Regions from separate parts of the Homo sapiens genome. Here regions 1, 3 and 4 are each reported to be linked to region 2. Evidence: microRNA targets listed by miRTarBase, many of them from high-throughput screens and not tested one by one. Region 2 holds a microRNA gene; each other region holds the end of a gene's coding sequence.
Evidence for each region. The annotated mature microRNA hsa-miR-6875-3p reads AUUCUUCCUGCCCUGGCUCCAU and lies in region 2 at 4,534-4,555, shown strand. An mRNA with a match to its seed (bases 2 to 7 or 8) in the 3' UTR can be bound and repressed. Matches are read on the target gene's strand: a 7mer-m8 pairs with bases 2 to 8, a 7mer-A1 pairs with bases 2 to 7 and ends in A, and an 8mer does both.

Region 1: miRTarBase lists BCLAF3 as a target of hsa-miR-6875-3p. Seed matches in the 3' UTR shown: 7mer-m8 at 3,073-3,079 and 7mer-A1 at 2,170-2,176.
Region 3: miRTarBase lists FAM81B as a target of hsa-miR-6875-3p. Seed matches in the 3' UTR shown: 7mer-A1 at 1,344-1,350.
Region 4: miRTarBase lists SUCLG2 as a target of hsa-miR-6875-3p. Seed matches in the 3' UTR shown: 8mer at 1,322-1,329.

Annotation. Positions count from the first base shown.
Region 1 is chrX:19,911,296-19,918,418 of GRCh38, forward strand. BCLAF3 (BCLAF1 and THRAP3 family member 3) reads right to left here. Exons shown (of 12, transcript NM_001367774.2): 12 at 1,565-6,039. The coding sequence ends at 6,010. Among named protein-coding and RNA genes, the nearest start is that of SH3KBP1, 27 kb to the left of the region's middle.
Region 2 is chr7:100,863,547-100,870,669 of GRCh38, forward strand. It overlaps MIR6875 (microRNA 6875), which reads left to right and starts at 4,490; the gene lies at 4,490-4,561. SLC12A9 (solute carrier family 12 member 9) reads left to right here. Exons shown (of 14, transcript NM_020246.4): 14 at 2,173-3,464. The coding sequence ends at 3,059. TRIP6 (thyroid hormone receptor interactor 6) reads left to right here and starts at 3,841. Exons shown (of 9, transcript NM_003302.3): 1 at 3,841-4,060; 2 at 4,315-4,442; 3 at 4,562-4,687; 4 at 4,949-5,320; 5 at 6,824-6,917; 6 at 7,028-7,123. The coding sequence starts at 3,952. RefSeq lists silencers at 3,489-3,578, 3,939-4,088 and an enhancer at 4,529-4,628.
Region 3 is chr5:95,449,002-95,456,124 of GRCh38, forward strand. It overlaps FAM81B (family with sequence similarity 81 member B), which reads left to right. Exons shown (of 10, transcript NM_152548.3): 10 at 1,148-1,440. The coding sequence ends at 1,281. Among named protein-coding and RNA genes, the nearest start is that of FAM81B, 61 kb to the left of the region's middle.
Region 4 is chr3:67,369,852-67,376,974 of GRCh38, reverse strand. SUCLG2 (succinate-CoA ligase GDP-forming subunit beta) reads left to right here. Exons shown (of 11, transcript NM_003848.4): 11 at 1,116-2,256. The coding sequence ends at 1,231. Among named protein-coding and RNA genes, the nearest start is that of MIR4272, 150 kb to the right of the region's middle.

The DNA.
Region 1 (7,123 bases), not on the chromosome of region 2:
TTAGAATTTGGGATGAGAATTTACATTAGAAAATTATTTGTAAAGTTCTATCTACTTTTTAACATCTTAAATGATGTGTACATCAAAACAAACAAAACCCTTAAATTTTATTTATTTATTTGAGACAGAGTCTCACTCTGTTGTCTAGGCTGGAGTGCAGTGGTGCGATCTGGGCTCACTGCAACCTCCACCTCCCTGGTTGAAGCAATTCTCCTGCCTCAGCCTCCTGAGTGGCTGGGATTACAGGCACGCACCACCACACCCAGCTAATTTTTGTATTTTTAGTAGAGACGGGGTTTCACCATGTTGGCCAGCCTGGTCTCAAACTCCTGACCTCAGGTGATCCGCCCACCTCTGCCTCCCAAAGTGCTGGGATTATAGGCATGAGCCACTGTGCCCAGCCAAAACCCCTAAATTTTAATATAATTCAGGATTTCATAAAACATTTTTAAGGCCGGACAAGGTGGCCTTAAAAATGTAATAAAGTATAATCTCAACTACCAAAACAATAAAGCCCAGAAAAAAGACTAATGAGAAAATACCAAAATGTTAGTCTGCACTAAATATTTATGAGCAGTGGGATTATAGACAAATTTTTCTCCCTTTTACATACTATTCTATCTACTTTGTCAAGGACAAAAATTCAACAAACTGAGTTTCAAAGATCTGATTGGCTTTTATTAGTGATTCATGAACCAGGCAGCATCCAATCTACAAATTAGAAAGGAGCTCCAATGAGCTAAACAAAGTGGGTGAGTTTTATAGGCAGAAAAAAGTGGAGGAAAGCAGGAACAAGGAACAAATAGAGAACTGGCCATTTCAAGGTTACTTTCCTCACAGGGATATAAGTGAAATCTTGCTGGCTTAATGGAATTTGGCTACTGTCTCTTCTGATTTGTTGGAAGGTCACATCTTCCAAATAAACAACTTAGGTTTCTGTTTGGTGATATGGAACCTTAGCATGAGTGACACCATTTTGGGCCTGTTGTCTTTTAACAACTTTTGATCAGGAAAAAAAAGTTGTTTTTCTTTTTAAAAAGAAAAGCAGTAAGATGAATTTTTTTTTTTTTTTTTGAGATAGGGTCTCACTCTGTCACCCAGGCTGTCACAGCTCACTGCAGCCTTGATCTCCCAGGCTCAAGAGATCCTCCCACCTCAGCCTCCCAAATAGGTGGGACTACAGGTGCACGCCCCTACACCCAGCTAATATTTGTATTTTTTGTAGAGATGGAGTTTCACCATGTTGCCCAGGCTGGTCTCAAACTCCTGAGCTCAAACAATCTACCCACCTCAGCCTCCTTAAGTGTTGGCATTACACCGTGCCTGGCCAAATTTAATTTTTTATATATTATTGTTAAATATTACAAATCAATAATTTGTACTTAAAACTCAACACAATACATACTTAAAATAAGCCTACCTACTTTTTATGATGTGGGAGGAATGGCCGGGAATAAAACCCCAATGGACTATAGTGAAGTAGCCAGCCTATAACGTAAAAGCTTGTTTACCTGGATTTTGGTAGCAGATATATAATGGATAGGATGAAATGTTCTTACCACTGTTTTAAAAAAGAAAGACTTTATTTTATAAAAATGATACAACATTCATTATATTTGATAGATACAGAAGAGTACAGTCACTCATAATCCCACCATTTAAAAAAATCAACAGTGTTAACAGTGGGTGGGTATGTTTCCAGACCTCTCAATTCACTCATATGTACAGACAGGATTGACGGGGGGAATCCCTAAACTTTTTATTCTAACAAGTTTTATTTATTTATTTTCTTTTTTGACATGGAGTCTCGCTCTGTCGCCCAGGCTGGAGTGCAATGGCGTGGCCTCGGTTCACTGCAACCTTCGCCTCCCGGGTTTAAGCAATTCTCCTGCCTCAGCCTCCCAGGTAGCTGGGATTACAGGTGCATGCTACTGCGCCCGGCTAATTTATGTATTTTTATTAGAGATGGGGTTTCACCATATTGGCCAGGCTGGTCTCAAACTCCTGACCTCAAGTGATCCACTCGCCTCGGCCTCCCAAAGTGCTGGGATTACAGGCGTGACTCACTGTGCCCGGCCAGCAAACAAGTTTTAGATTTAACTTTATTTGAATGCAATAGAAAAAAAATTAGGCATTAAATTGAAGGGGCTGCTGAACTTCAGATAAATGTTTCTTCATTGGTTCCTAAAAGGGATAAATAAGCCAGTTATTCTCAAACTCAAGTATGTGCCAGAATCCCCTGGAGGACTTGTTAAATCACAGATTGCTTGGCCCCACCCCCAGGGTTTCTGATTCAGGAGGTCTGGGGTGGGGCCAAGAATCTGCATTTTTAACAAGTTCTCAGGTGATGCTGATGTTGCTGGTCTGGGACCACACTTTGAGAACCACTGTATTAAGGTCAAGGAAAAAAAAGATTGTGGAAAAACTTAAGGTTGGTCACTAGCGTTTTTCCCCATATTATAATTTTAAGACATGACGTGACATGACACCTGGCCATGAATGATGAGACGGTTAGTTCTTAAGTCTTTATCCCACTTTACCTCCTCCATGTCTGAATTTGTCAATGTACATTAATTTTTCTTTGTCAAGATTTATAACATTTACATACTATTCTACATCTATGATTCCTCAGTTCTTAAATGTTCATTCTGTATTTTAATGGACTCAGAGCTCATAATCATCCTATTTGACGGAACTTTGTTGGGGAACCTGGTATCCCCTCTCTTCTAGGTTCCCATTAAATGTCCAGAACCAGAACTCACTAGACACAGTCAAAGGTGTCTCTGACTTCTGCAGGATTTGGCTTTCCCAGGCTGCTCTGAGACCTGGGAAATGCCTAGTCCTGGTGAATCTTACCCCTTCTGCTGAGGTCCTGAGATGGAAGCAAAGACTTCGTTGTCCCAAGAGTTTTCCTTGACTCTCCTCCACGTGGCCTGGTCACCTCGTCAGTGCCTTTGTCCATACTGGGGCCCACTGTTACCAATATTTTTGTCATCTCCATTGTTTTACTCAGTGCTACTTCTGGGGATGGGCGAGGGATGAAGTCATACCACACCTTGTTGCATCAGCTTCTTCTTCCTTCCTTGCTTGGTTGTTCCTGGTGAATTTGTGCCTGGTGGTTACTGAATTTGCTGGGTAATAAAGACAATAAGAGTTTCTCATCCAGCTTTACTTTTCTTGCTTCTGCCTGGAAGTATCCCCGTCTTTTTTTTAAAAAAAAAACTATTCAAAAATGTAGGATTTATTAGGTAAAATGTGGTACATAGTATACATCTACATAAATTGTTACACATAAATGTAGCGAGTTTTTTTCCAATAGAAAAAAATGAAAATGTATCATCTAAAATATTTATAATAGTGTTCTCTGTGATAAGACTATGGGCAATTCTTCAAATTGAAATTTATGTTGAAGTAACTCTAGATTCACATGCAGCTATAAAAGAAATAATACAGAGAGATCCCGCGTACAATTTACCCAGTTTCCCCCAATGCATCAATTTTTAAAACCAGTAAAACCACCAACAGAATAGTGCCTTCTGAGGTTGGTGAAACCAATAGGAAAGAAACATGACGAGGGGATGCTGAATCAGAAATGTCAACTTTCCTCTCAACCTTTTGTATATATGTCCACTAAAGTACTTACTCTACATTGTGATTCTTTGTTTTTGTGAATCTCTTCTTCAGCAGTGCATGAGCTTCCTCACAGCAGGGACTGTGTCTTATTATCTTTGTCTTCCCAGTACCAGCGAAGGGCCTAGCACGTAGTGGAGGAAGGTGAGGAGGCAATGGTAGGGGACTTATCAAAAAAAAGAAAAAAAAAAAAAACTTCTCTTCTCAAGTCTTATGCATTCAAGAAGTCAAATTCTTTCCAGTCAATAAAAAATGCTATGGATAACCTTTTGTTCAATCTCCATATGAAAATTACACATGTAGTTCCTAATAAACATATTCTATTATTCCCTATTTATTCATTCATTATTCAACTAATATTTAATGAACTCTTACCACACGTCAAATAGGAAGCTGGGTGCTGGGGATACTATGGTGGACAAGACAGACACGGTCCCTGTCCTTATTTTATACTCTAAATTATAAAGTTGGTTTTTCCTTTTAGGCTTTAGATCTTATACACACAATGTTTTCTGCACAGGTATTTTGCAGATAACACGCTTTGCATATTGAGACAGTGCCAAAAGAATATCCAAATAGGGAATCAGTTGTGGAATGAATAATAGTAAATCAGCCATCTTACCTTTATGTGTTACAATAAATAAAAAGCGAGCTATAAAGGCGATTTACCAAGTTATATTTCTGTTTAATGTCCATTTTTCCTATTAGACTCTTCGTACCATAAAGGCAGGGTCCATGTGTCTTGTCTTCTTGTTCATTGCTGTAATTTTAGTACAGTATCTGTGCAATACATAGTTGTCAATCAAATGATTAAATATTCAAAGCTCATTACTGTCCCCTAGAATATGGGAGTAAATGAAATCAATTATTTTAAAATTTAAGACAGATTTTATAAGTACCTAACACAATATAAAGTTGCCATACTACCTGTGTGCATGCATTTCTTTCTTACCATAAGTGGAATGCTAAATATGTTTGGAAAACCTGACCTATAGAGATTGTACACAGTACAAGACAGGCCATCTACCCAAATTTATTACCTGCTTAGCAATGAATCAAGTGCACTTGCCCCCCTTATCATGAACTCACTTAAGGAAAAGGCTGCCCTCTCTTTTAAAGATATGGACAAGAAAACTGAATGTACTAAGATTTTTCACATCCAGTCATGAAAAACCAAGTTCTTATCAACCTTCACATTTTAATTTTGAAAGCTCTGTCTTTGTAAGCACAGAACAGTGCTTTAAACACTGTTTAAACAGAGGTGCTATCCAAGGCTATAAGTCTCAAACAAAATTAAAATAATGCTCTCACAAACTGGCAAGTAACTTATTTAAGCAGAAAGAGCAACAACATTTTATTTTATTACAAATAAACATTTCACAAAAATGTAATTGGGAATGTATATGTACTGTTAAGCAGAACACAGAAAACATAAAGAAATAAGGTATTGGGGCCTAAAAATTTCATTTAAAAATCCCATCCATTTGCTCTTACACATAGTAGGTATGCAATACATATCAACTGAACTAAAAGTAAACACTCTATAAGATGTGCTTGCAAAATGTGTAATGCTGTAGTAGTAAAGTACAATTTTCAAATATGAGATTTTGTTTGTCAGATTTTTAAAAAGCCTTTAAAAATATGATATGCACAAGCTTGCCCTGAGGGAAAAATAAGATGGACTATAGATTACAAAATCTTTACATATTTTCCACAATAGCATTTTGAAATTGGAAAAGAGCAAATAGTTGTGGAAAAAAACTGAATGAACATATTACTAAAAATTCAGTGCACTCACAACTACCTGATGGAATATTTGAAGCACCTTGTCTCTTGCCTTCTTATAATATGAAATGTATGAATTATATAGGCCTTGATCTTCAGAAACTTAAGAAAACTTCGAGTTATAAGCCAAAATGTCATCAGAAAAAGAAAAATCTGGTATAAAATTTTCTACCATAAGGCCACTGTTTAAAGTTCTTTCATGTAAAGACACTATACAATTCAGACACTTGTTTTTGTTTTTATTATGTAAGCAAAACTTTCAACATATAAACGTCTGAATATTACTTGGTGAAGTTCTCTCTATGAAACCATGCTCAGAGAAAAATGCATCAACAAATAATGCCCTTCAAGTGATTCTTTTGAGACTTTTTGCAAAGGAAACTGTAGTTAATACAACTTTTAAATTGAATACTGTAATTTAAAAGCAATTGTTAGGTGTAAAAAAGTTGCAGCATTCCACTACTAAAAAATAAAGTTATTTTATCAAGAAGTTACAGTATTAGTGCCTTAGTGTCACTTCTAACTCCTGACAAAAAGAGAGAGATGCTCCCAAACATCCTCCTGTAGCGTCATTTCCATTTGTACGATTTCAGATTAGATTCCTGTGGCAACATCTGTATATTCCTATTGAGAGAAAACAAGAGAAATAAAGACTTCAAACAAAGTGTCAAACATCTGAGCTAGTTTTGTTTACACTGCAATTTTCAAAGTATTTTCGTTTATACAGTGTTACTTGCACCCCGAGATTCCCACGAAGGCATGTGGAACCCCAAAGGCGCAAAGTAACAACAGAACACATCAAAGCAATATCGCATGATAAATCAATAGGACAAAGAAAACATGTGGTGCTAGATAACATTGATATTAGTAAATTGATGAAAACAGTCTTCTGCTATTTGGGTGAGTTTCAGTGAAGGCATCCCTGGCATAAAATCAAGACTCTTAAACCTTTGGCTCTCAAGTACGGAGCCTGACACTACACACGCACACCTCAAATTAGTATTTTATCTTTTCCACCCTATATCTCTAATTCTAAAACTACATGGGCTCTTTTAACTGACTGATAACTGCAGAGAAAGTTATTAGAGGGGGAAATGCCTTCTTACTTTTGGATGGTTGACTACAGTATAAAAAGGTGTAAGGCTTCAATAAATACAGGAAGAAGAATTTACAAGAACAATGAGACTATGATTAGAGAATAATGAACGTGGATTCTATACTGTGATACTATGCACAATATTCAATTACTAACCACAAACTGGACATAAGACCATGCAAGTAATAACGGAGCAAACATGGTAAAATGGCACATTTTTTAGGGACATTAAAAAATAAAAATTTATTAATATACATATCCTTACCTTTCACTAGGATCTTACACTATTAAAACTGAAAGAAATGTAAAAGTTGATTTATTTTTTGGCATTTATATTAGTATGGAAATGTTTAATTCCAAACAAAAACAGTGCTGATAGAAAATTCTTATTCTTCTATTTTGGTTAATGAAATCTTCAAAATACATGCACGTATATATTTGTCAACATCATTCCTTTAAATAGAGGTAGACTTCATTGTATCCTAGTTCTTTACTCATTATACAATATAAAAATCATATAAATTTATCTTCAAATAAAATGTTACCTACTTACAACTTTAAAAGGAAATTCTAACTACAATAATTCTAAAATAAGATTCAGTTGAAGTATCT
Region 2 (7,123 bases):
GCGGAGAGATGGTAATTCATCCAGACTTTGAAAGAGGTTGGGATGTAGGAGATGTAACATGTCTCCCCTGCCCCCGCCACCCAAAGCCACAAAGGATGCCGGAGGCTGTGTGGGGCGGACGTCTGTGGATGGAGCGGTAAATTCTCAGCTTTTAGCGCTGAGGCCACCAGGGTTATCTATGCTCAGTCACTGCCTTTTCCCTTAATCCTGGACCAGTGCCCGTCACCAAAGTGCATGCTTCCTTCTCTATTCAGAGTCTGGCTAAAGTTCAACAGTGTTGGACATTGCCCAGTTCAGTGTAAATCAGAACCCTGGGAAATACTGAGGAGGGGGCATGACTAGTTTATTTTGCAAGATCAGCTGGAATTCACACCTGCGGAGATGTTTTGGGGTGTCGTCAAGCATCATTGACCCACAGAACATCTGAGAGCCTGGTCTTCACTTTTTGTGCAGAGACCACAATGCTTATGAAATACGAAATTTTTCCTGTGGAAGATATCAGGTCGGTGCAAAAGCAATTGCGGTTTTTGCCTTTTTTTTTTTTTTTTTTTGGACAGGGTCTCACTCTGTTGCCCAGGCTGGAGTGCAGTGGCACAATGTCAGCTCACTGCAACCTCTGCCTCCCGGGTTCAAGTATTCTCCCATCTCAGCCTCCCAAGTAGCTGGGACTACAGATATACGCCAGCATTGTCCGGCTAATTTTTGTATATTTTTGGTAGAGACGGGGTTTCACCATATTGCCCAGGCTGATCTCGAACTTCCAACCTCAGGTGATCCGCCTGCCTCAGCCTCCCAAAGTGCTGGGATGCCATTTTAATGGGGGAAAAAAAGAACCACAATTACTTTTGCACCAACCTATTCCAATAAAAGGAAAAGTAGTTCCTTTAAATGGTGGATTCTCCTGTCATAGAAAATTTGATTTATGGCTTGAGCAGTGTTTGTTTCATGAGAAGGGGTCTTGGAAGAGGTCTCTGCGTCTCCCTGTAAACTCAGCAATTATCCGATTCCACAAGGGTTGTTCAAAAATTAAGAACGAAGAGCTTGTCAGCAGGGACTTGGAGCATTGTGGTTGCCACGTGCCCAGCTCGGTGGCTCAGAGTGTGGCCTCTCACGCTGGATGGAGGCGGATTGCGTTGACCTACCTGCCCCAGTACCTACCAGATATGAGCCTATGGGCAAGTGACTTCATCCCTTGGTGCTTTGGGCTCCTTATCAGTAAAAAGAGGAGACTAAATATTACCTACCTCATAGCATTACTTCGAGTTTCAAATAAGTTAAAATATAAAGTGCTTTCTACAGGACATAGCCCCTGGTAAGCGGATACCATGCAATGAACCACCATGATTAGGGTTTTGGTAAAACCTACTAGGGTTAGGGTTTACTGCAGTAAACATACGGGGTAGCCCTGTTTCTTTTTTTCTTTTTTTTTGAGATGGAGTCTCGCTCTGTTGCCCAGGCTGGAGTGCAGTGGCGTGATCTCGGCTTACTACAACCACCACCTTCCGGGTTCAGGCAATTCTCATGTCTCAGCCTCCTGAGTAGCTGGGATTATAGATGCCCACCACAATGCCCGGCTAATTTTTGTATTTTTAGTAGAGATAGCATTTCACCGTATTGGCCAGGCTGGTCTCAAACTCCTGATCTCAGGTGATCAACGTGCCTCAGCTTCCCAAGATGCTGCGATTACAGGTGTGAGCCACGGTGCCCTGCCTGGTCCATTTTTTCATCTTCCCATTGCAGAGTCTGGGACGCTATTACCCTGGGGATTCAGGTCATGAGCTTGGCTGATCAGGGTGTCTGGTTTGCACAACAGAGTCAAACTCGCATCCCCTGCCGTGAAACAGATGCCCCGCTAGAAGCCGGGAGTGGACAGCATCCTCCTCTCCATAGAATTGGAGTGCTCATTAGTGGCAAGAATCCTAAGGCGAACTTTGCCTGTTTAAGTGGAGGAGATTAGTCACTGAGATAATAAAATAAATGCATGTGAAAGTGTTTAGGAAAAATGAAAAGTCTTTATGCAAATATGCAGAATGTTGCCGTAAGAGCCCGTACACAGTGGGAATGTCATACCTATGGCTGACGCACCTTGCTGTCAGTGTGTGGGAGCGTGGTGTAAACTTAGCCTGTGAGCCTGACTCCTGTCTGTTCCTGCCTTCCCCGCTCTGCCCCCAGGTGGCATGAAGCCCAACACGTTGGTCCTAGGTTTCTACGATGACGCTCCACCGCAGGACCATTTCCTGACGGACCCGGCTTTCTCTGAGCCTGCAGACAGCACCAGGGAGGGCAGTTCCCCAGCTCTGAGCACCCTGTTCCCTCCTCCCCGGGCTCCTGGGAGCCCCCGGGCCCTCAATCCCCAGGACTATGTGGCCACGGTGGCCGACGCCCTCAAGATGAACAAGAATGTGGTGCTGGCCCGGGCCAGCGGGGCCTTGCCCCCTGAGCGGCTGAGCCGGGGGTCTGGGGGCACCTCTCAGCTGCACCATGTGGACGTGTGGCCCCTCAACCTGCTGCGGCCCCGGGGTGGGCCCGGCTATGTGGATGTCTGCGGCCTCTTCCTGCTGCAGATGGCAACCATCTTGGGCATGGTGCCCGCTTGGCATAGCGCCCGGCTCCGGATCTTCCTGTGCCTGGGGCCTCGGGAGGCGCCTGGGGCGGCCGAGGGGCGGCTGCGGGCACTGCTGAGCCAACTGAGGATCCGGGCTGAGGTGCAGGAGGTGGTGTGGGGCGAGGGGGCCGGGGCTGGGGAACCCGAGGCGGAGGAGGAAGGGGACTTTGTGAACAGTGGGCGGGGAGACGCAGAGGCAGAGGCCCTGGCACGCAGCGCCAACGCCCTGGTTCGGGCCCAGCAGGGGCGCGGCACAGGAGGAGGGCCGGGTGGGCCGGAGGGTGGGGATGCTGAGGGCCCCATCACAGCCCTCACCTTCCTGTACTTGCCTCGGCCGCCAGCCGATCCCGCCCGATACCCCCGCTACCTGGCGCTACTGGAGACTCTAACCCGAGACCTGGGCCCCACGCTGCTGGTTCATGGGGTCACTCCAGTCACCTGCACTGATCTGTGATGCCCCTGCCTCCAGGGCTAGGTAGAGAGGGCCCAGGCAGGCGGCCTATCCTGATCCTTGGAGGAGGAGGAAGAGGAGGCCACTGTGGCCCGTGGCCCTGCCCTTGGGACGTGGAGCCCAGGGGAGGTTTGAAGGGGATCCTGGGCTTGGGCATCACGCCCACCTCCTTTGGCAGAGGGACCCCAGCACACTAACTCTGGGTGGCTGTCCCCACCGTGCAGGGGAGGGAGTCCGCAGCCTCCCTTCACTGGTGCCTTGATGCTAGGGGCCAGGCCTCCTCTGTGACTCTGGGCTACCTCAGTTTCCCCATTTTGGCCAGACTCACCGGCCCACTGGGGTGGTGATGTTTTCGTTCTGTTTTATTTTTCTAACTCTGCTGACCATGAATAAAAGACCAAAACACTACAGGCTGGCTGAGCAGTGCTGGTGGGTAGCTGAGAGGGAGGGGGTGGGAATGGAGAGCTCTGCAGAGGGGTGGAGATCGGAGCCTTCAGCCTCCCGCCGCGAGGCTGCCACGTGCAGGGCTGGGGTGCGGGGCCCGGACGCATCCGTGGACTTGGAGGCTGGCTCGGGCCCGCACCTCCCATCCCCAGCTGCCCGCAACCCCCAGTGACTCGGGATCCCCCGGAGAGCCCTCCCCTCTCGGCAGGAGGGGGCTGACTCAGGGAGAAATGGCAGTTTAGGGCCTAGGGGGCCACGTGACCCTCCCCCAGGAATGTGGTGACGTCATCGGAGGCGTGGTCGTCCCCAAAATTAGGGAGGAAGAGGAAAAAAAAAAGCCAGAAAAAGTTTTCTTTTCTGGAGTCCCAAACGAGGTGCGGGACGGAAGAGGGGGTGAAGGCCAGAGGCTCGGGGCTTCAAGACCGCTGTCTGGAGTCCCCCTTTCCAGGCCATGTCGGGGCCCACCTGGCTGCCCCCGAAGCAGCCGGAGCCCGCCAGAGCCCCTCAGGGGAGGGCGATCCCCCGCGGCACCCCGGGGCCACCACCGGCCCACGGAGCAGGTAAGGCAGCCCTTGTGAGACAGAAGAGCCACCCAGCTGTGGCGCTCACCTCTGTCCTACCGCTCCAGCCTCCCGCCCTGGCTGCTTCCTCCTGCCCCTTCCCCAAGCCGAGGCGGGGGGAACAGCCGCCTGCGCTCTCTTGGGACCCTAGATTTGGGGGAGGAGGTAACGAGAGGCGGAGAGGGTGGCTCCTCAAATATACACCCCTCCTGTCCTCCGCCACCCCACCTTTGATTTCTCTTCCCTCAACCCAGCACTCCAGCCCCACCCCAGGGTCAATTTTTGCCCCCTTCCATCTGAGCAGTGTTACCAGGCCCCAGGGGGACCGGAGGATCGGGGGCCGGCGTGGGTGGGGTCCCATGGAGTACTCCAGCACACGCAGGTGAGACCCGGGATCGTGGGGTGGGACATGTGGGATCCCCCAGAACCGAGTCTGAGGGACCCAGGACAGGAGAAGGCCTATGGTGATTTGCATTCTTCCTGCCCTGGCTCCATCCTCAGGGGCTCCCTGCAGACAGGGGGGGCCTTCGCCCTGGAAGCCTGGACGCCGAGATAGACTTGCTGAGCAGCACGCTGGCCGAGCTGAATGGGGGTCGGGGTCATGCGTCACGGCGACCAGACCGACAGGTGACTCTGCCCCTCCTCCCCGTCAGCACCCTGCCCCCTTCTCTGGACTCTCAGACCCAGCCTGATCGATCCCCCATGTGTGTAATGTGCACCCCAGCATGGAGGAAGCGTGGCTGCAAGTACCAACATGTCAGCCACTTGAGGACGGGACCTTGTCAAATGCAAAAAGCCTGTGCTTCCCCACAGCCAGGGTCATTTCCACAAATGTGGGTCTTGGAGTGGGGTCCTTGCTTACGACTTCTGGCCTGCGTTTCTCCTCAGGCATATGAGCCCCCGCCACCTCCTGCCTACCGCACGGGCTCCCTGAAGCCAAATCCAGCCTCGCCGCTCCCAGCGTCTCCCTATGGGGGCCCCACTCCAGCCTCTTACACTACCGCCAGCACCCCGGCTGGCCCAGCCTTCCCCGTGCAAGTGAAGGTGGCACAGCCAGTGAGGGGCTGCGGCCCACCCAGGCGGGGAGCCTCTCAGGCCTCTGGGCCCCTCCCGGGCCCCCACTTTCCTCTCCCAGGCCGAGGTGAAGTCTGGGGGCCTGGCTATAGGAGCCAGAGAGAGCCAGGGCCAGGGGCCAAAGAGGAAGCTGCTGGGGTCTCTGGCCCTGCAGGAAGAGGAAGAGGAGGCGAGCACGGGCCCCAGGTGAGCCCTGGGGAACTGGGATTTCAGGCCCTACAGACAATGGGACACCGACTGGGTGGGGTGGCTGGTGGTGTTTTAGGGGGCTTTTTTGTTTTTTGAGACAGAGTTTTGCTCTTGTTTGCCCAGGCTGGGGTGCAGTGGTGCCATCTTGGCTCACTGCAACCTCTGCCTCCCGGGTTCAAGTGATTCTCCTGCCTCAGCCTCCTGAATAACTGGATTACAGGCACACGCTGCCACGCTTGGTTAATTTTTGTATTTTTAGTACAGACGGGGTTTCACTAAAACCCCAGTTTGTTGGCCAGGCTGGTCTCGAACTCCCGACCTCAGGTGATCCGCCTGCCTCAGCCTCCCAAAGTGCTGGGATTGCAGGCCTGAGCCACCGCGCCTGGCCAAGGGGCTGGTTTTGGAGCAGAGTCAGAGGTCTGGGACGTGGAATAGGTAAGGGCAGGGCAGTGCGGGGGAGCAGGATAGAACTGCCCATTGGGGCTGAGCGCGGTGGCTCATGCCTGTAATCCCAGCACTTTGGGAGGCTGAGGTGGGTGGATCACCTGAGGTCACGAGTTCGAGACCACACTGACCAACATGGAGAAACCTCGTCTCTACTAAAAATACAAAATTAGCCAGGCATGGTGGCACATGCCTGTAATCCCAGCTACTCGGGAGGTTGAGGCAGGAGAATCACTTGAACCTGGGAGGTGGAGGTTGCGGTGAGCCGAGATCGCACCACTGCTCTCCAACCTGGGCAACAAGAGCAAAACTCTGTCTCAAAAAAAAAAAAAAAAAAAAAAAAGAACTGCCTACGGGCCCCTGGGCTGAGATGTTCTCAGATGAGCTTTCTAGCTGGAACTGCCTGGCCACCTTCAGAGACATTATAGCAGTCCCCAATCTTTTTGGCACCAGGGACCAGTTTTGGGGAAAACAATTTTTCCATGGACTGGGGAGGGGGATGGGAGGGGGTGGGAGGGGGATGGTTTCAGGATGATTCAAGCACATTACATTCATTGTGCACTTTATTTCTGTTATAATAATAATAGAATATATAGTATATATAATTGTTTCGGTATATATTACAATGTATATTACAATGTAATATATACCGAAACAATTATACAATTCACCATCATGTAGGATCAGTGGGAGCCCTGAGCTTGTTTTCCTGCAACTGGACAGTCCCATCTGGGGGTGATGGGAGACAGTGACAGATCATCAGGCATTAGATTCTCATAAGGAGCTTGCAACCTACATCCTTCGAACACACAGTTCACAATAGGGTTCATGCTCCTATGAGAATCTAACGCCGCTGCTGATCTGACAGGAGGTGGAGCTCAGGCGGTAATGCAAGTGATGGGGAGCAGCTGTAAATACAGATGAAGCTTTGCTTGCCCATTGCTCAGCTCCTGCTGTGTGGCCCAGTTCCTAACAGGCCATGGCCTGGCGGCTGAGGGCCCTGGTATTACAGCATCAGGAGCTAGAGTAGGACCGAGCCCGATTCCCACCTTCCAGGTGCCCCTGAGCCAGCCTCCAGAGGATGAGCTGGATAGGCTGACGAAGAAGCTGGTTCACGACATGAACCACCCGCCCAGCGGGGAGTACTTTGGTGAGCTGAGGCTGTGGGGTGGGTGGGACGTGGGAAGGGAGGCTGGGAGACAGAGGGGACAGTGGCTTCCTGGGTCTGTGAAGACTGATGCTGTTTCTCCCTGTCCTCAGGCCAGTGTGGTGGCTGCGGAGAAGATGTGGTTGGGGATGGGGCTGGGGTTGTGGCCCTTGATCGCGTCTTTCACGTGGGCTGCTTTGTATGTTCTA
Region 3 (7,123 bases), not on the chromosome of region 2:
TTGAAAGGCTCATCTAATTTCTCAAAGGGAAGGACATGGAATAGGTGCTGTGGTGCAGCCATCTGCCTTGAGTCATAATTCTGAGGGAATTACCAGGACTCAGAAGAGTTTCTTTCCTAGAGAAAGTCCCAAGTAATTTTTTTTCTTTTGTCTTCTAGATCTCAGAAAAATTCATGTGTAAATTCTACCAAATTTGGTCCTGTATAGAGATACCTTGGAGGTGCCTTGGGAGGACATGAGGGTCTCAATCTGCCAGATGTTCCTGGCATATAAGTAGAATTTGCTGCCTGGAAATTCAACCCTCACAATATACCCCTCCCACCGTCATATCAAAATAATGAATTATCTGGCCAGGAATCATGTCCCAAACTTAACTGGCCCTTCTTTTAAAGGCTCTGCTTTCTGTTTAACTATCAGAGGTTTAATTTTACTTATTCCATTAGTAAAACTTCAGGGTGAACTGAAAAGGAATTTACCACCTGCAAGTTCTTTCATTTTACTAATGAGGAGGAGTTCTAAAAAGGGGGAACTTCAAATTAATGGTTTGCTGCTTTATGCCTTTAATAAAAATGTGTTGAGAAACGACTCTGTGAAAGGCCCCAGTGAATAACAAATGGGTTGTGCCCTAAGGCCTTGAGGTTTGATAGGTCTGTGGTCAGGAGTGACTAGACATGCATAAGAGAGATACAAAGTGCTAGGAGGGAGGAGGGCAGCAGGGGGCCGCTGTTAGGTCCCTCAAATAGGCTACTTTCAGAGAAGATTTAAAATCTCATCTGTGATCTTTACCTTCAATTTGGTAACAAGACTGAAAAAAAATCACACAAGTCTCTCATCAAAGCATTCAGAAAGAATAAAATATTTTAAATTTCTCTCTTGCAATATAGAATTATGCAATATATTTGAGGAGGAGAAAAATAAATTTCACAATGAAACCAGATAACTAGATATAAGTTGAAACACTATTGTGAATGGATCTTCATGACATACAAGAAATATATTATGTACAATTTTAGGCTGGTCTTCATAGAATTTAATGCGCTTGGAATTAAATGATAATCAATTATGGCAGGACTGCCGATTAGCAACTTTTTTAAAAAAAAGCTCTAATGCATTGTTTAAGTGTACCTATTCTTTTACCCTCTTACAGGATTTAAATCAATTCATGACTCTCTCAGCTCCCTCCAACAAATACAGAAAACAAAGATGGATTTAGAGAAATATAAAGTACAGAAAGACCTAAAGAAATTACAGCGCAAGATAGTGGAACTCCAGGAAGTATAAACCTTTTCAGTCATCTTCTTTTTCATCAGCCAATGGAGTGATTTGTTGGAAAAAGTTCTGAAGAAGAAAGTTACTATCTCTGGGATGTTTACTGCTTCTAATGTCTCCTTTTAAGGAGACGAATGTACCAGAAAAATAATAAAGCAAAGAAGCTTCGGATGTCTTGAATTTATTAATGAAAAAACTAAGAAATTTCTTTATATAGCTGCCTTTATGTATATATATACCTATAAATAACGAAAGAGGAATCTACATAAGGTACATGAGTGAAGTAGGCCAGCTGTAATATATTAAAGAATGACAGGAGCTCTGGCAAATTGGAGAGCACTTACTCTGTCTAAAAATAATAGCTACTATGTAGTGACAGTCCATGACTAACATATATATATATATATAAAATCCATTATTATCCAAAATTCCACTTTTCAAGAGAAATTCCTCTATTTTTAAGCTTTAGCAACTAGTTCAAAATAGTTCTCAAACTATGTGAGATACGCCTGTGGAGCAGATATGACCTAGTGGTCAGTTTGCAACTTCTAATCTCAATGTTTGTAGCAAGTCTAACTTATGCATATTTAAAATATATTTTCCTTGTACTCAATATGTACCAGAATTATAAGCAATTAAGAGCCAAACCATGCAAAATAAGAGAATACAACAGTTTCCATGAAAACATATCCAACGTAATTTGACCTAGGTGCTAAATTCAGAAGTACTTCAAAAATGCTAGTTTCCTATACAATTAAAAATTGTTGGCCAAGTGCAGTGGCTCACACCTGTAATCCTAGCACTTTGGGAGGCTGAGGTGGGTGGATCACTTGAGGTCAGGAGTTTGAGACCAGCCTGGCCAACATGGTGAAACCCCGTCTCTACTAATAACACAAAAATTAGCCGGGTGTGGTGGCGTGCGCCTGTAATACCAGCTACTCGGGAGGCTGAGGCAGGAGAATCACTTGGAACCCTGGAGACAGAGGTTGCAGTGAGCTGAGATCACGCCATTTCACTCCAGCCTGGGTGACAAGAGCAAAACTCTGTCTCAAAAAAAAAATTGTCTAACTTTTCTAGATATAAATATTAAATATAGAGCCTAATATTGAGCAGTATATTCATGAAACATAAAAATGAACTATTCAGGATATGCACTCGGCTATAACAAGGACTAATTTCTAATCACAGAACTTATGTAAGCTTGGCAATGGAAACTTTGCTTCCGACTTAGGCTCCTTCCTTGGCTTAGGGAAGAAAAGTGACAACTTCCTCCCCTAATACAGAACAAGTTTACCTTCTGAGTAAATTTTTGACTAATGCTCACTTCTGTAATGTTTTAACTCTATGAAACATCTCCTTTTATTGCTATTAATAACCCACATGCAGCATCATTGAGTCTATAACTGAAGGGATTTTCATAGCAGAATTTAATTTAAGAGTTTAAAATGCAGTATGTTCAGTGATGATATGGTATCCAACGAAAAAGTAAGAAATATTAAAATAATGCAATGGTAAGTGTCCTTTGTAACCAAGTATCATGCTAAGACAGAGGGCTAATATCCCAAGTAATCCCAAATAACTTTTACAAGTAAGTAAGAAAATAATCAATTTTTTTTCAAAATGGGCAAAGGATATGAACAGGCAAGCCACAGAAGAATATAATAATATGAAGGTATGAGAAGATGTCCAACTTTACTGTTAAATAAATAAAAATTAAGAAACCCTTAGCTACTATTTTCAAGATTGGCAAAGATTAAAGTGATTGATAATACTGGGCTGGCAAGGGTGGAGAAAGAGTGCACTCTCATACATTATTGGCGAGTCTATAAATTGGTACAATGATTTAGATGGCAATTTGAGAACATCTGTTAATGTTTTTAAATGTAAATATCTTTTGATCCTGCAATCCATGGCTAGAAATTTATATTACCGGGGGAAACAACTCCCAAAGTGTGCAAAGATATATGAACAAGAATGCTCATTATAGCATCATTTGTTATAGTTAAAAAAAAAAAAAAAAGGAAAAGAAACACCAAAACCAGAAAACACCCAAATATAAGGAATTGATTGACTAAATGGTATTAACAAGACCACTCCCCCCACCACCCAATGCTGGACAGCCCTTTAAAAAGAACACAGAAAGATGTCCAAGATATACTGTTAGGTGAAAAAGACAAGTTTAAAAGCAATATGGATATGATCCACTTTTGTCATAAAATGTTTTAACTAAGTTAAACATAATATGCATATACTGTATGCCAAAAAAGGTAAGAATTTACAACAAACTTAGTGGATTCTATTTTTTAAAAAACTTCTGTTTTCTACATTAAGGATTTATGAAAGCTTTTATATTTTTATATAATATTTTTGTTTCTACTAAAAATATTTTATAAAAACAACAACAAATATAATAGGCTGAAAGAGTAACTCTTTGTAATGAACTAAACAAATGATTGTAGGGAGGGTTAAATTAGGAATTAATACAGACTAAGAGTCAAGTCATCTCACTCTCTTTTTGCTATACAGACATAGCTACAAAAGCAGAGAGGATACACAGCAACTGAAAAAAATATACATTTTCTCCTTGTTCTAAATGTTCTAATGTTCTAAAATGTTCTAAATTAGATTGTAGTTCAAATAATAGTGTAAAATCAGGCCAAAAGTTTTCCAACAATAGATCTTTCATTGCTCTTGGCCAGGACAGTAACATGTGGGGCAGTAGATCAAAGGATCAAAGAATCCTCTATCACCACTCTTCTACTTGGGATGCCAAATTGAGGTGTTCACGGGTTTGCACAGACTCTAGATAGTCAAAGAACTATGCTCATTGAGCAGGTGGATCCAGGTTTCTCAGAGTCTAAAGCTTATGATGTTTCAGTTTGTTATTGATGTACTGTCCTGATGCCAGATGAGTTAGCACAGAAGTCTATAAGAATATTCCTGGAAGCCACTCCTAATCAGGACAGCTAGTAGTAACTCAACACAGAAGTGACTGTGAACAACATGAATATATCCCTGTAATCCAAATGTATCCCCAACTCAACTTCTCTTTGTCCACAGCCACTTCAGCACCACCCGACATCAAGGGAAGTGGGAGTGAAAAGAGGCAGTGGTCTTAATCAATGGCATTCATCAATTATGTTTAAAATGTCTTACTTCTGTAAATATGACAATGATCTTGTAAATACATGGCTAGAGCTCACGCAAGCAGGAGCCCCTGAAGCTTAAGAGCCATTGTTTCACAGTAAATTCACCTCTGTTCAAGGAACCAGTGGAGCACTGGGCCTCCCTCCCCTTGCATTTATTTTGACAGAAATCCAAAAAGATAAATAAAACTATCCTCCTAAAGAAGCTCAATATACATGGCACTTTATTCCATATCAAACAATATTACTTAATCCTTTGGGAAATGTCAGACTTCTCTTCCCACAAATATAGGATGATTGAGCACTGGAGAATCTGCAATCCAGATCCACGCTACAGACTTGAGGCATATGTTAAAATATGCTCAGGTAGTTTTTACTTTAAGTACAAACACCATTTAAACAGTCTTGAATAGTTAAGGGTCCTACTGCCCTTAAATTTCCTGTTGTTTCCTTCCTATTATCAACACCTGCTCTTAGAAAACATAGGAGAAAAGCCCCTTGACATTAGTTTTGACAATGACTTTTTGGATATAACACCAAAAGCACAGGCAACAAAAGTAAACAAGTGAGATTACATCAAATTAAAAAGTTTCTGCACAGCAAAGGAAACAATCAGCAAAATGAAAGAACCTATGAAATGGGAGAAAATATTTGCAAACCATATATCTGATGGGGAACTAGTATCCAAAAACATATAAGGAACTCAACAACTCAATAGCCAAAAACACAAATAACCTGATAAAAAAAATGGGCAAAGGACCTGAATAGATGTTTTTCCAAGAAGATATACAAATAGCCAACAGATATATAAAAACTCAAATGATAACAGGTGTTGGTGAGGATGTAGAGAAAAGGGAACCCTCGTGCACTGTATGTGGGACAATAAATTGGTACAGCCATTAGGGAAAACAATATGGAGGCTGTTCAAAAAAACTAAAAATAAAACTATCACATGATCCTGCAATCCCACTTCTGGAAAATAAAGTGAAAACAGTATGTCAAAGAGATATTTGCACCCTATGTTCACTGCAGCATTATTCACAATAGCCAAGATGCGGAAACCACCTGACAGAAGAATGGATAAACTGTCATCTATGTATATACATATATATATAATTCAGGTTTACAGAAGAAAGAAATCTTGCCATTTGCGACAACATGAGTGAACTTAGAGGGCATTATGCTAAGTGAAATAAGCTAGGTACAAAAAGCTAAATACTGCACAAACTCACTTACATGTGGAATCTCTTTAGAAATAAATGAAGAATAGAACAGTAGTTGCCAGAACTCATAGAAATAAACAGAGAATAGAACAGTAGTTGCCAGGGGCTGGGAGCCGAGGCAAATGGAAGATTTCAGTCAAAGGATACAAACTTTAAAGTTAAAATGAATAAATTCTGGAGATCTAATGTACAGCATGTGGATCATACTTAATAATGTACTGTCTATTTGAAATTTGCTGAGAGATCTTCAGTGTTCTTACCACACACACAAAAATGGTAACTATGTGAGGTGATACGTTAATTAGCTTGATTGAGGTATCACAGTGTATATTAAAACCCACAATGTACATCTTACATATGTAGAATAAAAAATTTTAAACTTGCTCTTTGGGGAAAAATCATATGAAATTATTCATACTGAGGACTAGATGGTCATGTTCAAAGTGTTTTACTTCTGCACTAAAAATTAAGGACAAATCCCTCCCCTTCTGCCACACAGGTAACTGCTTTCTCAGCCCCATTGTGAGGCATATATGCTTGCCATCTGGTAGTCAGGACAGCAGCAAGGCCCAAGACTTTGGTCAAAGAAACAGCATTCCCAGAGTACTCTAGACACCAGCAGCCCTCCCGTCTTCTAATTTTCCAAACATAGACTCCCTTCCATTGGCTTCACCCATAGTAGCAGCAAGTAGCATCCCAAAACACCAAGAAGGAAAAATTTGATCTATAGTACACACACACACACACACACACACACACACACAGTGCACATTGTTGCCTTACAAAAGGGATCTCCAAAGTTTTTGTGAAGTATTACTATTTCTATCTTTCCAGCTTCCATACATCCATGGGCTAGCCACTGTGGATACAATATTGAACAACCTAAACACAAACCCTGCCTTCAGGGAATTTATAGTTTAGTGGAAAAGACCAACAATTAAAATCACAAATACATGGGAAAGTAGAGTGTAATGGGAGAGCCAGAGAGAGGAAACACATTCCCTGTGTTTACCAGAAACACAGGGAATCAGGCAGAGGGGTCTTCCAGAAGAAGGAGTATCTAAATTGAGACCTCCAATGTATAAGCAGACATAAGTCAAGGGAAAGAGGCTTGATTGGTAGAGGTGAGGGCTCAGGCAGATTGATCAGCCTGAGCAAAGGCCTGGAGGCCAAAAGAGAATGGGGATATATGCCAGAAATTGCAAGAAGCTCAATAAGTGTAGGTCAGAGCCTATGCTGTGTGTTAGGGGAGGTGAGTAGTGAGAGAGAAGGCTGGAGAAGTTAGGGAAAGTGGGGTGTCTAATCACAAAAGACTTTGTAACTCATATTGAGAAACTTGGGCTTTATCTTAAGGATCCAGAGTAGCCTTTAAAAGATCTTAAATAGGAGAGTGACAGATTTGCATTTTATAGAAAGATCCCTCTGGCTGCAGTGTAGAGAATACATTAGATGCAGTGTGGGAAGCAAATTTGGGTGGGAAAGGAG
Region 4 (7,123 bases), not on the chromosome of region 2:
AAGTTAAACGATTTACCCAAAACTACATAACAAGTACATGGCAGAGCCAGCATGGAGATTTTAGGTAGCAGCTTCCCACATTTTATGCTTTCACCTTCCAGAGAGGACTTTCACCAGCTTCCTCTGTAAAAACAGGAGTAGGTGAGCCTTAAGGTGAAGACACAGTGCCAAGCGGCCATCTTCACTGCTGCTTGGGTAGACCCAGGGTCCCAGGGGAATCAGTGCTGCATCATCTTTTCAATCCACCCATTTCTATTTAATCCAGCATTTGCCTCTTTATATGAAATGTGCTGACCCAGTGCCTCTTTTTATCTGCACTCTTTGTGGTAAGGCAAGTTCTCCAAGGCCTATATTTCAAGGTCTTTGTTTATAAATAGGCTCTGTCTTGCCAACTAGATAAAAGCACAGGAAATGATGTAGGATGAGATATTTCATTAGACACTTAAATTCTATTACATTTCTCCTACAGGAGTTGTTCACTCTAAAATGGCAGAAAAGCAGTTCTCATGTTAAATAGTCCCCAAGCACACCTTTGAATGAAGTGACTTGGCCAGAAGATACTCCAGATCCACCAGGAACAGTCAAGAGATTGCCATCAGAGGCTGCTTTGCCCGTTTTGAAGGGCTCAGCCCATTTCATTTTATAGAGTGAGGAGAAGGCAGAAATGGACATGCTGGATGCGCCAGAGTCTCCAAAGCAGTGGATTTGTGGACATAGCTGGGCAGATTCTCGGAACTTCCTTTCTCAAATCAGGTCACAGCCCAAACCCCTGATGACGTCTGAGAGGGCTTTAAGACAAGTGACTTCTGGTGTGGGCCAAAACCGCATTAAATCCACATGGCTGTGATTATCAGCAGACAACTCAGCTTCCATCAGTAAAATATGTTCATTTCCCTCTTGCAAGCCCTTGCTTTCATCTTCTTTTCTAGCTGGACCACAGCTTGAGATAAATTTCATCACATAATCTTTTCTGTCAGTGACCTTGATGAGAACCTATATTTAATTCATTTCCTAGTGAAAAGCTGTAGACAGGTGAGTCTTGTGTGTCCTTGTGCAAACTTCATAAGGCGCCACCTCTAGTTTCATTCAGTGATTGTTCCCTGTCCCCCTTCTAGGAACCAACGTCCAAGAGGCCCAGAAGATACTCAACAACAGCGGACTCCCCATTACTTCAGCCATTGACCTGGAGGATGCAGCCAAGAAGGCTGTGGCCAGTGTGGCCAAGAAGTGATGTCTTTGTCCTGATCCAATGGAGAAAGAAAGCCATTTTTCCGTAAAAAGGGATGGTTCATCATTGTGAAAGAAATGGTTATCTCATTGGGGAAGAAAAGGGGAGGGGGAAGGCAAGAATCACTGAAAAATCTTAAATCTGTGTTTTCTGGAATAAGATATCTAGACAGCCTAAATCTGATTTTGGTCTTTATAAAAATAATATCTTGTGTTCTCATACTTTTCTGTCACTGTAAGCCTGCCCAGTAGGCAGTGTTTTGCAGACTTTGGGGAGTGGTCTATGTGGCCAAATATTGTGTGTATAGACAGAATTTGAAATCAAGTCCTGCTTCATTTACAAGAATTTTGGTGGGCATCTAATCCTACATAATGAAAAAGAAAAACAGACCATTTAAAAACTCAGACAAGATTATATTTAATATATTAATTACTAAAAAGGCATAAGATTACACTGAACATATTAGCTACTAAAAAGGCACTGCTAAGACATTCAAGCAAATAGCTATTACACACTACTGCAGATTTTACAGGTTTCTAATTCTAACATATGTTTGAAAAATCCGTGAGTATTCCAAAATATATTTAATAATGGAATATCTGCATTAATATACCATCCATGTGTTTTTACCATTTGCCTTAATATTGAATATACTGTTTACCTCACACTAAAAAGAAAACCAGAAGCCTTATTTGTGATTTTGGGAGTGGAAGCTTCCATTTTTGTGTCAAAAATGAATCCTGATTCTTATGGAAATCTCTGTTATTAAGATATTTCAAGATGAGACAACACTGAAGATCAAATTGTGTTTAGTATCACTATCTTCTCTCCTCGTTTCTCTCTTACTCCTCATCCTCCCAGAATCTACCAGTTTATGGTAGAAAGATGGGAACCTTATTTGAATGTGTTTTTTTTTTCCATGATGTCCAATTTTGTTGTGGGAAAGGATTTGGATAAAATTTTTGTTTAAATTTTGGTAGATTTTTATCTATACAAATTTAAATAAAATTATGTTTTGTAAGCTGTAAGATCTGTGTGTATCTCTCATTTTACTCAATTTTATTCCTCAAACATTTTTTTTTTTTACAAAGACACTAGTCTTAGTGTCTTAGGTATGCCTCTAAAATTTGATAATTTGGGTCATTCCAGGATTATTCCAGTTCCACTCAACTTTATCAGATACCCATTTCTGTGTTAGGAGATTATTGAATCCATAAAAGTTATACACAAACCAGAACCCCAGGAATGTATCTCAGATGTCTGACAGGTTGAACTGTGATGTCAGTCTGCGTAACGCAAAGGGAGATACTCCAGTATAACTCATTCCATTAAGTGAGGCTCAATTGCCACCATTAATTTTCCTTTCAGTGTATAAATATGTAGTAGACCAAACTATTTTGTTTGTTTTTTTTACCAGCTTACTTTGTTCTCATAAATTTTATGTGTGGACAAAAGTATGAAAGTCATTATTGTTTAGAGCCATGTTTGCCATGGAGAAATAAACTATTGGATAGATCAGTCTTACATCCTTTCTTAATGCCCATGCAATGAATGAAGAATATTAACAATGTCTTCTTAGTTGTGTTTTGGTTTTTGATAGCTTAATCACTAGTTGGTGCAGTAAAAAAAATAACCTATATTATGTCAACTAGACAACATTTTTAAATTTTTGATCTCTGAAGAGGACTATGTTTGAATCACTTGTAAATATTGATGTTTCCAGTCAACCCAATTTGGAGGAGGGGATAAAGCAATTAAATCATTTTTGTGATTATTTCATAAAAGGGTTAATAACAAGGAAATAGCCTTTTATTTTCAAATAAGCTCAAAGCCATCAGAGCTTGTTCTTTTTGCATCCTTAGCGTAGCTTGTCTCTAATTGTTTTATTCTCAGGCAGGCCATTTTTACAGGTGGATAATGGCTGCTGGCCATTACATGTGAGGTTCTCAAATTTAGCATCCTCAGAAGAGAAAGAGAGAGGGAGCAGAGGGAAAGAGAAAATAAATGAGCAAATAAACGAAAGAAAGAGGGAGGAAGGAGAGAGGAAGGAAAGAAGCTTCTCTTGGTAATTCTAAGACACCTCCCAAAATTGAATATGACTCCAGTGATCAGTTTCAGGTCAGTAACCTATTCCTGAATCTGGCCCCGGTTCATTTACAATAATTTTTGTGGTCTTCTATACAATAAATATAGGCCATAAAAAACTCAGACAAGTTTACATTTAACATATTAACTACCTGATATGGTTTGGCTGTGTCCCCACCCAAAATCTCATCTTGAGTTGTAATCAGTGTTTTTGATTGTTTTGGCTTTGAGCTTATTTGAAAATAAAAGGCTATTTGCTTGTTATTAATCCTTTTATGAAATAATCACATAAATGATTTAATTGCTTTATCCCCTCCTCCAAGAATTAAATTACAATTCTTCTACATTTTATTTTCATGTCTCTTCCTCTCAGTTTTCTCTCTGAGGAAAAAAAAAATGTCATTAAGAATTATATTGTTTTTTAAGTGCAAAGCCTTGATAAAAATTAGAAGGAATATTATTTTTTCACATTACTAAAGTAAATATTTGAATGTTTGATTGTGATCATTTGTAGAATACACTATATGTTCAAAATTAAAATAAGCGAGAAAATATATATCATAGTGGGGAAGGAAACAATGTGGGGAAGTGAAAAGGATATGTTCTTTCATATTTTTCTAGATCTGGAGTTGGCAAACTAAGGCCCAAGGGCCTATTTTAGTAAATTAAGTTTTATTGTCACAGACACACCCATTTGTGTGCATGTTGTCTGTGGCTACTTTCATGCTACACAGCAGAGCTGAGTAGTTGTGATAGAAACCTTATGACCCTAAAATATTTCCTCTTTGGCCCTTTACATAAAAGGTTTGCCAACCCCAGCTCTAGATAAATAAAAAAATACAACATTGCCCCCAAAATGACAGCAACGGAGTATTGTTTTCAAACCTGAGAAAGGAAGATTTAGATATTAAAGTGAAACAGAAATGGAAAAGTAGGAAATAAGATCTTTGATCTTTCCATTTTAAACCCTGTGAGAGCTACAAAAAGTCTACAAAAGGCCACTTGCCAATGAAAACCAATTCAGTTTTGTTACTTTTTGTCTTTCCATCACCACAAGGACTGTCTGCAGTAGCTCCTTGCACTTTTGAACATATGCTGTTCCTAACTGCTCACAGGTGCATTGGAATAATACCAAATCATGGCTATGAATATTAAACTACCAAAGGGCTGCACCTATCAACTAACTCATCCTCAAAGTGATCCTTGCTAGTAAGTATGTCATGCATTGTTTAGTCTTGGAAAGACTAAAGCAAGGAAAAAAAAAAGTGACTGCAGTGTACTTGATCCCCACCACATTACTGCAAAGGCAGTATCCATTTTACCAGTGAGGAAATTGTGACAAAGTGAGATAAAGTTGCTCCTCTTGAGTTTCGTAGTTAATGGCAAAGATGTTGGCTTCTGGACTTTGGATTCTTGTTTAATTCTATCATTTCTTCTATTGTCCAGTAAAACTTTCTGTATGACAGCAATGGTAAATATCAGTGCCGTCCAACATATAGTCATCCATCACATGTGACTATTGAGCATCCTGGGAACTGAATTTTAAAGTCTAATGCTAATTAATTGACAGCCACACATTGCTAGTGGCTGCCATATTGGACAGTATAGCTCTCTGGTCTAAATCTCCTGAGTATTAGGATGCGTTACTTTCACTTCAGAGAGGCTCACATTGATTAAGTGCTTTCTGTGTGCCAGGAACTTTACCTGTGCTATCCTAATTAATCCTCTTTAGCAACTCTATGAATCTGTCATTGTTGTTTTACTGGTGAGAACATTGTAACTCCGAGAATTTAAGTAACATGACCAAGAGCACAAAACTAGCATGTGGCGAGTCAGGATTGAAACTTGGTCTTCTGAGTCAAAAGCCACTGGTCTTTGTTTTGTATCTATGGGGACCCAAATTCACTAAGGTTATGCCACTTATGATCATTTGAAAGGATGTTGGAGGCAAAGACATTTAGCAAGCTGGGTTCTTGAATGTATTGCTTGCCCTGTGTATCTCATACTTTGGGAAGCAGGATTTAGAAGCAGAAAGATCACCATAAGCAACTGGCAGGTCATATGGACTACAATGTGAATGGCACCTCCGGGACTTGCACAAGGCATAAGGCAAGGGCCATTTTCTAGGGATCTAATTCCCAAGTGTCTTCTCTTTAACTCAGTGCCTTCCCAACATCTATAACCATGACCATCCAAAAGACAAAAGGCAGAGGGGCAGAAGAGATAAAGGCTGGAGGCACTTTTATCATATTAGGAGAAAATTTAGTGTGCAGCCTTTACCCTTCTTCTGGAGAAGTTTAGGTCTGGCAGTCTTATCTCATATTTTCATATTCTAAGTAAGCCAGGAGCAATTCCTAGGCACCTTATGCCAAATTTCACAAATCCAAAATTAATTAAATTGTATATGCCAGCTATGGGGAAATTGTCAGGTTTTTGTTGTTGTTGTTCTTGTTCCTCCCTTGTGTTTGTAGAGGCAGCAACATACAGGCATGTTTATTGGGAGCTCTCCTAATTCCTTTCCTAGCTAGGGAAGAAAAAAATGAAAGTAAGCCATGATGTAGTAGTCATTAACACATCTGTTTTCAAACATCAGACAATGGGAGAAACTAGAAGATTTGGAGATTCAATTTGGAGTTTTTTTTCAATTACCTTTTAATATTGAACATTCATGTGCTTTAAATCCTTATAACTAGTTGCCCTGAGCAAAACAAATAATTTTTGAAGGACCTTGTATTAAAAAGCAGAAACGACATCACAATGATAAATCGTTTTAAATAAATAAATAGCCTTGTATTAGGAATCACATACAGCACATACAGTAGTCCTCCCTTATCCATGGTTTCACATTTCAGTTTTAGTTACCTGTGGTCAGCTACAGTCAGAAAATAGATTAGTACAGTACAATGAAATGTTTTGAGAGAGACCACATTCATATAACTTTTATTACAGCATATTGTCATAATTGTTCAATTTTATTCCTGTTTGTCTCTTACTGTGCCTCATTTATAAATTAAACCTTTCCATAAGGATATATGTCTAGGAAAAGACATGCTATGTGTAGGGCTTGGTACTATCTGTGGTTTTAGGCATTCACTCGGGAGTCTTGGATGCCCTGCAGGTAAGGGGGGATTCCTGTATATTAATAAAAGTATTGGTTGGGTTTTATTTATCACTCTTCATGTATATGATCTCATGGATACAAACAGGTGACCTTGCCAATTGGTGCTTTTTGTGTGTTTAAGAAAAGAACAGTAGTAACCTTGCTCCCTGGATACCAATAAAAAATCTATTATTTTTTTAAAAGAATTTTGGACCTCTAGTTAAAAGATCATTGTTTCCCAACTGCATGACTCTATCTTGAAACATTTACTTATTGTTCTTTATTAAACATATTTTTAATTATCCTATGTTTTAAATAATTTCTTCCAAGATTGCTTCCTTTCAAGAGAACTTTTAAACATTCAGTTAAATAAGAACCCTTTAAATTTCTGTTAATTGTTTCAAATGTTACATAATTTGTATGGACCCATTGACAGTTGTAAACTTTCAGAATATTGCGTGTGAATTTCAAAAAAATTTGTAAAATATTCGCATACATTGAAATTCATTAAACTATGTTTTCTCATACTTTTATTTTTTATAAAAATCTAGTATTAAAAATAAAAGTATTAATATTCAAGTTTGACAAAAATATAAGAAAGTAGATACTCTTCATTAATTTAGTATTTACTATGTAATCAGTATAACGTTTCTGGAGGTCAGTTTTTTAGTACAGATTAACAGCCTCAAAAATGTTCATAGTGCCACTTC